Linked DNA regions of Homo sapiens: region 1 is linked to region 2. Evidence: fine-mapped expression QTL. Tissue or cell type: prefrontal cortex. Region 2 holds a variant in brackets; the other region holds the start of a gene. All regions are shown on one strand. Distances are from middle to middle. Region 1 holds the start of DNAH5-AS1 (DNAH5 antisense RNA 1). Region 2 overlaps DNAH5 (dynein axonemal heavy chain 5).

The links. PIP is the estimated chance that this variant, and not a neighbour inherited with it, causes the effect. A credible set is the group of variants that fine-mapping cannot tell apart.
Region 1: DNAH5-AS1 starts here. The variant in region 2 is the best candidate, but not a certain one, in a credible set for the expression of DNAH5-AS1 in prefrontal cortex (BrainSeq, PIP 0.81).

Annotation. Positions count from the first base shown.
Region 1 is chr5:13,858,858-13,862,857 of GRCh38, forward strand. DNAH5-AS1 (DNAH5 antisense RNA 1) reads left to right here and starts at 1,582. Exons shown (of 3, transcript NR_199035.1): 1 at 1,582-1,698. It overlaps DNAH5 (dynein axonemal heavy chain 5), which reads right to left. Exons shown (of 79, transcript NM_001369.3): 29 at 3,691-3,890; 30 at 595-748. RefSeq lists an enhancer at 10-1,209.
Region 2 is chr5:13,882,712-13,886,711 of GRCh38, forward strand. DNAH5 (dynein axonemal heavy chain 5) reads right to left here. Exons shown (of 79, transcript NM_001369.3): 18 at 3,253-3,418; 19 at 2,278-2,517; 20 at 193-383; 21 at 17-104. All of the region lies in intron 1 of DNAH5-AS1 (DNAH5 antisense RNA 1), which reads left to right. Among named protein-coding and RNA genes, the nearest start is that of DNAH5-AS1, 24 kb to the left of the region's middle. The variant C/T (reference allele first, on the strand shown) is at 1,891.

The DNA of each region.
Region 1 (4,000 bases), 24 kb before region 2:
TTGAATAAGAATCCTTGAGAATTGGTTAAAATGTTCATTTAAAAATCTCAAAATATACTCCATATATACCCAGTAAGATGATTACGATTTGATGATAAATATATACTTGACATCTTGAAAAGAAGGTCTTTTTGTTTTGGAGATTTTTTCTGCACATTTCCACCCCTCAATTTTACTGTACAGATATAATTGGGTACATTGTATAGTATGCATTACTTTAAAATGTCTGTAGTAGAAAAACTTAGCCTACCATTGTCAAGATAACTGCACCATAATTCTACACTGTTCCAAATTCTACCTTGAAATTATCTAAAGAAGCATATCAATTATGCGACCACTTATTTTTTGTTTTTTTAACCCTCTATCTCCTATCAAACCTCCACAGTTTTACAGCATTCTTACTCTGATTGTCACCCCTTTCCTTTCCACAATTCCTCACTCCCTTTGAAGAATAACAGCATTAACAGTGACAACAAAAAGATTGAAGGAAGGGGGTTCAATAGAAGTGGAATATTATTGCATTATTTAAGGGGGTAATCGCTCTGAGAGCTTTCTCTGAAAAATCTGATGAAATCATAAAGAAGATTACAAAACCTTGGGCAGCTGCTTGGCAATGTCTCCTCCCACAAAGACAGCTTCTAAATAAATCCACAGGTTTTGCACCGTCATCCAGCTCTCGATGATGTCTGTTGAGTTGGAAAGGTACTGCACCCATTTTTGAATCTGGGCTTTGAATGGCATATTGTACCTAAAATAAGAAATAGGTTTAGGGTTTGGTTTTGTTTTTGTTGTGCTGTTGTTTCAAATTAAAAAGGTTTTTAAAAATCTTAATTTTTAACCGCTTTCTTTACAACCTTAATTATGTTGCTGGCTTTTAAAGTGATGCAACCAAGTGATTAATTCATCCCCACTTACTGTTCATTGTTAGTCTAGCTTTTTCCCTTTTGATCCAGAGCATAGAGAAGGGTGGGAGATTTATAATCTAAGGAGTAGATCAGGCATTAGACTTGATTCCACCAAGCTTCCAGGGTAATATAATTACCCTCAGTGCTGCTATGGCTACGAGAATAATATTTGCCCTACTGAGCTTCTGTGCCTATTTCATGGAGTCTCTGGTTTTTCATATAATATGGAGCTTTTATAGAACCATCAGTGGGGACCAGACAACTAATTCAATCTTCAAATATGATAACACCTGGACTCTCTCCTTAGCCTCCCCTTTTCTGAGTCTCTTTCTAACTTCCCACGCACCTGTGTCCAACCCACTCATGTTTGATGTACATGTGTGCAAGATTACTGCCTCTTCCATAGTTAATCTGTCTTCCCCTTTTCCTCTTTGAGACAGACTGCCTGTGGGTGGCCTCCCAATGTCCTTTTTTCCTTCTGCTTTTCCATGTGGGCTCATAATTACCCAGCTAAATTACTGAATTTCCCAGCTTCCCTTTGCAGTAATGTGCAGTCAGAAGACTAAGTTCCACATCAACAGTGCTTAATTTAGCGGAACACTGGAATGATCTCATAGCTGAACACTGGAATCATCTCGCCAGCATTAAAAATTACTGATGCCTGCCTGGGTCCTACGTACAGAGACTCTGATTCAATGGGTCTGGGAAGTGGCCCTGGCATTGGGATTTTTTTAAGTTCCTTCAGTGTATCTGGTACGTTGCAAAGATTGAGAACAACTCTTCTACATGAAATGTGAGTAGTGGCATTGGATGTAATGGGTAGTATGGGGAATAAGGTCACACCTGGGAAAGACAGATGAGTGAGCCAGACCAAGCTTGGGTCCCTGATGATGTGGTAAAGCCCCCATTCCAACCTGAACCACCTACATTAGGAATTCTTTTATGCGTGAGCAATATAAACATCAGTGTTATATTAGCCATTTTGTATGTGGTGTTTCTGTTATTTACAGACAAACTTAATCCTAAATGATTATACAGCCTACCTTTGTGTCTCTTCTTCTCTTTCTTATCCCTTCATGGTTCTCTCTAGCCCTACATAATATGGACTTGAAGTCGTATTATTGCATAAAAGTTTAATTTCCATATTCTTAATTGTTAACCAAATTGTTTTAATATTCCATGCATCTTTCTGAATATTTGTATGCTCTTCACTAGAAATATAGGTCCATAGAAACAGAGATCTTTCCCTTATTTGTTGTTCTACCCACAGCGCCTAGAAGAGTACATCACACACATAGTAAAGGTTCAATAAATATATATTGAAAAAATACTCCTCCCAATAACTCTATCTGTAGATTAGATGCCATTGAAAAGAAAAGTTTCCCCACCCCAACCAGATAATTTTTACTTAATTTACATGAGTGTCTTTTCTATCTCCCTAGGGTATATTATTGCCTGTCTATCCTTTATTCTGGTTTGGTATGAATAGTAACCAAGTTCATTAAAACTCACTAAATCCTGAGAAGTCCAAACTCAAGATTACTAATGGTCTAACTTTATATCCCAATATTACTTTAGTGTAACAAGTAAACTGAAATAAGAGAAATTTTTTTGAAATAGTATGAAGTACACAGTATTTCCAACATTAAAAGTATTGATACACATATATATGGAGAATTGGGTGATATTTTAAAGCTAGAATAGAACAACAAATTCATATCTCAATGGTATCCACTTTCTGCACAATTACCATATATTTGAGAAGATTCTGGGGAACAAAAACATTATTTCAGAAAGAGCAAATGGAAGCAATGAAACAAGGAAATGTAAATTCATGACTGTGTGGTTTGTATGTCCAAAATGTGAGGGGTGGCCACTATGCATTATATACATGTAATGAAAGTTCACATGTGGACAGGCACAGTGGCTCATGCCTGTAATGCCAGCATTTTGGGAGGCCAAGGCGGGCAGATCACCTGAGACCAGGAGTTTGAGACCAGCCTGGCCAACATGGTGAAACCCTGTCTCTACTAAAAATACAAAAATTAGCCAGGCGTGGTGGCTGTTGCCTGTAATCCCAGTACTCAGGAAGCTGCGGCAGAATCACTTGAGCCAGGGAGGCTGAGGTTTCAGTGAGCTGAGATCACGCCATTGCACTCCAGCCTGGGTGACAAAGCAAGATTCCATCTCAAAAAAAAAAAAAAAAAAAAAAAACAAGTTCAAATGTACCCCATAAATTTGTACAAATATAAAAAATAGAGTATGTAAACAACTAAGAGTTTCTAGTCCACAGATATTGGTAAAAAAGGTTTTTCGAGTAAAATGATTATTCTGAAATTCAAAATAATGTTCCTCCTGGATTCTACAGCCTGTAGAGCTATGAGCTGTGCAGTCAGGCTTGTCAGCAGCAAGCTGAAATGTTCCCAAGAGCCGAGTGGCTAATTATACGTTGCATTATTTTGTCCAGTGGATGGTCTCAGACATACCCCACAAATAGAGGATAATGAAATAAAACCAGAGTTACACATGCTCTAACATGTGCCTGAGGCCAAAATGAAAACAAGAATAATTGAAATATAATCTCTTGATGATGTATATATAAGTGGGTACCTGAGTAAAAATATGTTTTGGATATAAAAATTAATTAATCAATGTAATTAAAACAAGTATTTTCAACATTGAGTAAACTATATGAAGGCTATTATTGTAATGGATTTTTCATTAATTTTAAATGTTTGCTATTACGGTTCTCAAATCTAAGGGAAAAGATAGATGGTTTTCCCACCTGTTGCTCAGTAGGGATCCCAGCAACATCAAGCTGTCCTCCATGTTGGCGATGATTTCCGAGGTACTGTCTCCTCTCAAGAGGAGCTCTCCACGGGTTTTAAAGCTGCCGAAGGTGAATGTTTTATTGTCCCATTCATTAATCACTTGCTTCAGCTTTTGCTCAATGTCTCTCTCTTTCACCGCACTGATACAGATGTCCTATCAAAATGGCAAGCTCTCATGTTATTGCATGAAAGTCACACGTCCTTCCTTAATAGTCTACGTGCAATACCCCATCTTCACTATTTGCTTCATATATATATAAATAT
Region 2 (4,000 bases):
CTAAAAGAACATTTACCTTGAAGTTCATTTTCTCCCATTTCAACATCAGAATCACTGTCTTCATTACTCTGCAAAGCAGCCATTTTTCTTTCTTGTATCTTTTTCTACAATGTAAAAGGATATTTTTCAGTTCTGTCCTATCTGTAAAAGAAGTGGTTTCCATATGAAACCATTTCTGCACCCCATACCCACCTTGGACAACAGTTCACTGCTCCACTGTCTGACCCCCTTAGGGACACTGATGATGCACTCCACGGCTTTGTTCAGGGTCTGCTGTACATCTTCCAGGGCAGGGGCCATGACGATGTTGGGAATGGCCAGAGTGACGCTTGCCCGGAAAATGGGCAAACTGTTCTGCTTCATGTTAGAGGCACTGTTACTGTCTGAGTTAACCCAAAACAAGGAAGAATTCACATTTTTAATACAAAATAAGATTTGCTTCCTTTGTAACCATAAAAATTAAAACAATACATAATAGGTATAAAATCTAATAAATATTTGTTGAATGAATGAGTCAATTAAAACTAATGGAGGATCTAGTATTGCTCAATATAACAAAGCAGTTCAGGGGAACCCAAGGCATTTTTTGCTGTTTACAGCTTCTTGGAATACTCTCCACAATGAAACCCACTGTGTGGGATCAGGCTAAATTATAAACACTTCTGTAAAATATTAAAGATGATTCTTCCAAATAACAAGATGCCAACAAATTAGCTAAATGTAGCTAAGTAAGCCAGGAATGAAGAACAAGACTATCGGCATAAGCCAAAGTTAGAACAAATAACCACTTTGGAATTTCAGATAAATCATAGGCCTTTCCTACCATGGTGTGTAAAATCCAAATGTGGAGCAGTTAAAAAAATGGAAAAGAAATAAAGTGTAATTCGCCATTCATACTGAAGGAGCTTTTAAGGTTGAACATAGGTATAGGTATGTAGATACAGACATGTATGTATATGTGTCTGTGTATCATGCATAACTTTACGTAGTTGCAAATATCTGTAATAGAAAAGCTGGGAAATAATTGTGATTGAATATTTAGCCTATCAGCCAACATTTATTAAGTTCTAATAATAACGCTGTGCCAAAGAAAAGAACTATTCTCCATCCTGAATGAAGTAAAACATAATAAGCCATGGCACCAAACAAAAAAAAAATCTTTCAGAGTTTCCACTTTTATTTACCCACTTTTAATTAAATATTGAAGATGCTTTCCTTTAAATGTCAATATTCAAAATATATTTAAAAATTTTATTATCCTATTATTTCAGTTTTCATTAATTACTATTATTTGTTTTCTTTTTACCATTTTTAACTTAAAATTTAATTTCAGGATGCCTCTAGATTTGACAGATTTTTGTGGCCCACCTGAGAAATACAACACCTATTTCTGAACTGTGCCGAGGAAAAGATGATGCTATTGAAAATGAGGAAACCACCTGGAAAGTACTAAATTAGCATAAAAATAGTAAAATACATATATATCCTTTGAAGAGTGTGACACTAGTAAGATGTTTCCACTTTGTAAGACTGGCTAACAAACCTAATGATTTAACAATGAAAGAATCGTTTCCATATAACTTCCTTTAAAGTATGTATTTTTTTCTTTCACCAATTAAAATAATTTTATATTTTTTCATCTTATTACAAAAAGATTAAACGTACTACCAATTTTCATGTTATTAACAAAAACTTAAGCAAACTATTTAACCTCCCTGTGCTGTGCTCTAGTTCTCTGATTTAACATGAGAGTAGTAATAGTATCTACTTAATAGAATTGTTGGGATGATCAAAGTTCATAATGTTTAAAATTACGAGAAGGCACTAAATAAACGGTGGATATGGCCAAGTGCGGTGGCTCACGCCTGTAATCCCAACACTTTGGGAGGC[C/T]GGGGCGGGCGGATCACCTGAGCTCAGGAGTTCGCCACCAGCGTGCCCAACATAGTGAAACCCTGTCTCTACTAAAATACAAAAAATTAGCCAGGCGTGGCGGCGTGCGCCTATAGTCCCAGCTACTTGGGAGGCTAAGCTGGAGAATCACTTGAACCCAGGAGATGAAGGTTGCAGTGAGCTGAGATCGTGCCGCTACCCTCCAACCTGGTCGACAGGGCGAGACTCCATCTCAAAAAATAAAAATTTAAAAAAAGATGAATATTTTTAATTATTTAAATTTAACAGGAATGTACATGCACGTGCACACGTGCACACACACACACACACACATACCCCAGCAACTATGCCTGATCATCCACTAAGCAAACCACACAAGATTATTACCCCGGAAGTTAATTGTGTGAGAGGAATGAATACGTTTGCGAATGGCCTCTAGTGTATTCCTTGTAACTTTCAGAAGAGCATCCATGTTCTGATGGTTGAAATGAGAGAGTAACTCGCGGGCTTCTTCCCCTAACATCTCAGTTTCTTTCTTTTTCCTCGTGACTGTCGTCAAAAGCAGGGCATTGGCCCTGGCATTAATAGATGATGTCAAGGTGTCAAAATTTCCTTCTTCTCTTTTTGCTGTTACAAGATGAAAGAGATAGAGATAGAGATAAGTTAGATGGATGGATGGATAGATAGACAGATAGATAGACAGATAGATAGAATCATCTGTTGCAATTAAAGGATAAATTACATGCAAGTTTAGTATCACTTAAACATCACACTTCTTAGGAAGTGAGGACATCAAAAAGTAGGAGGAAATCAGGAACCAGAGGGACTGATGGAAGCATCTCCTTCTCAATACAAGAAAACAGCCAACAAGAGAGGCAGGAGCTATGGCTGGAAAAGCTACAGTGGCCCCCAAGGACCTGGGTTCTGGTGCTACCTCCCACCAATAACCCTAAAACTTTGGGGGGATAATTTCCCTTCTTCACATCCACATCTCTCTGTTCTCCTCTGTCCTGCAAAAGGTGCGCTCAGTCTAGAGGCTCTCCAAGGGGAATTCCAGTCAATAATCCATCCAACTCTATTGATAAGGTAAAATAAAACACCCACCCACACATAAATGCAAAGAAAGCTAACCAGGGCCAATGCAAAGTGCATGTTTGCAAAGTTTAACCAAAAATAGTAGGAATTAACAACATAGAGTCACTAAAATATGCTCAGGGCCATAATTTCAGATTTATACATATCATTAGAAAATCGAGAGGATGTTTATAGAAGTATGAAATTAATTGGTATGTAGAAAATGCAGTTTTAGTTTTTAGTAAATGTCATAGAAAAACAAGACCCTTTCATTACCCCATCTCTTACCTGAACTTTCATTTTTGTAATTAACACTATTCTCATTGGATATTTTTTCACTTTCTTCTTCAGATAAAACTTCCACATCCAGCAACATATTTACAAGCTCATTGACTGCCTCCTCCACTAATGAGCTTTTAAAATGTAGTATTTGTGCACCATTTACACAAAGATCCTAACCAAAAAAAAAAAAAAAAAAAGATAGCACAGTGGTATATGGTTTATCTAGCTTTTGAGAGCACAGAAACAGTGGTAGCAATGCTGTGGCTCAGCCTCCAGGTGAGATTTCAGCCCCAGTGATGCTTGGCCACATCCTTCACAATAGCACAGGCCAGGTGTCCTCTAAAGGAATGTGTTTAGGACAAGAGAACCCACTGGATCAGTGTAGATGGACCAAAATTACAGGCACTTCTCCACCAGTAGAGAAAATATCTTCAAAAGCCATCAGCAGCCTCTCTACTCGTCACATTTCCTTCATATCACATAAATCGGATCCAGCCACCCTTCTTTCTCTCCTTGTTTTTGCCAACAAACCATAGTCATCCCCTCATTAATTTCAAAGACACTACCCACCCTTCTAACTATATTGTGCATTTCTCAAGAATGGATTTAATAAATATAAACTAACATGATTTGAGGCATGGTGATCAATTCTGGAGGAGATTAGGTAGACAGATAGTTATAGATGGATGATATAGACAGAATCAGTGATTTACCACCTGGTTGGAAAGTAAGCCCATGAAACAACAGACTGTCA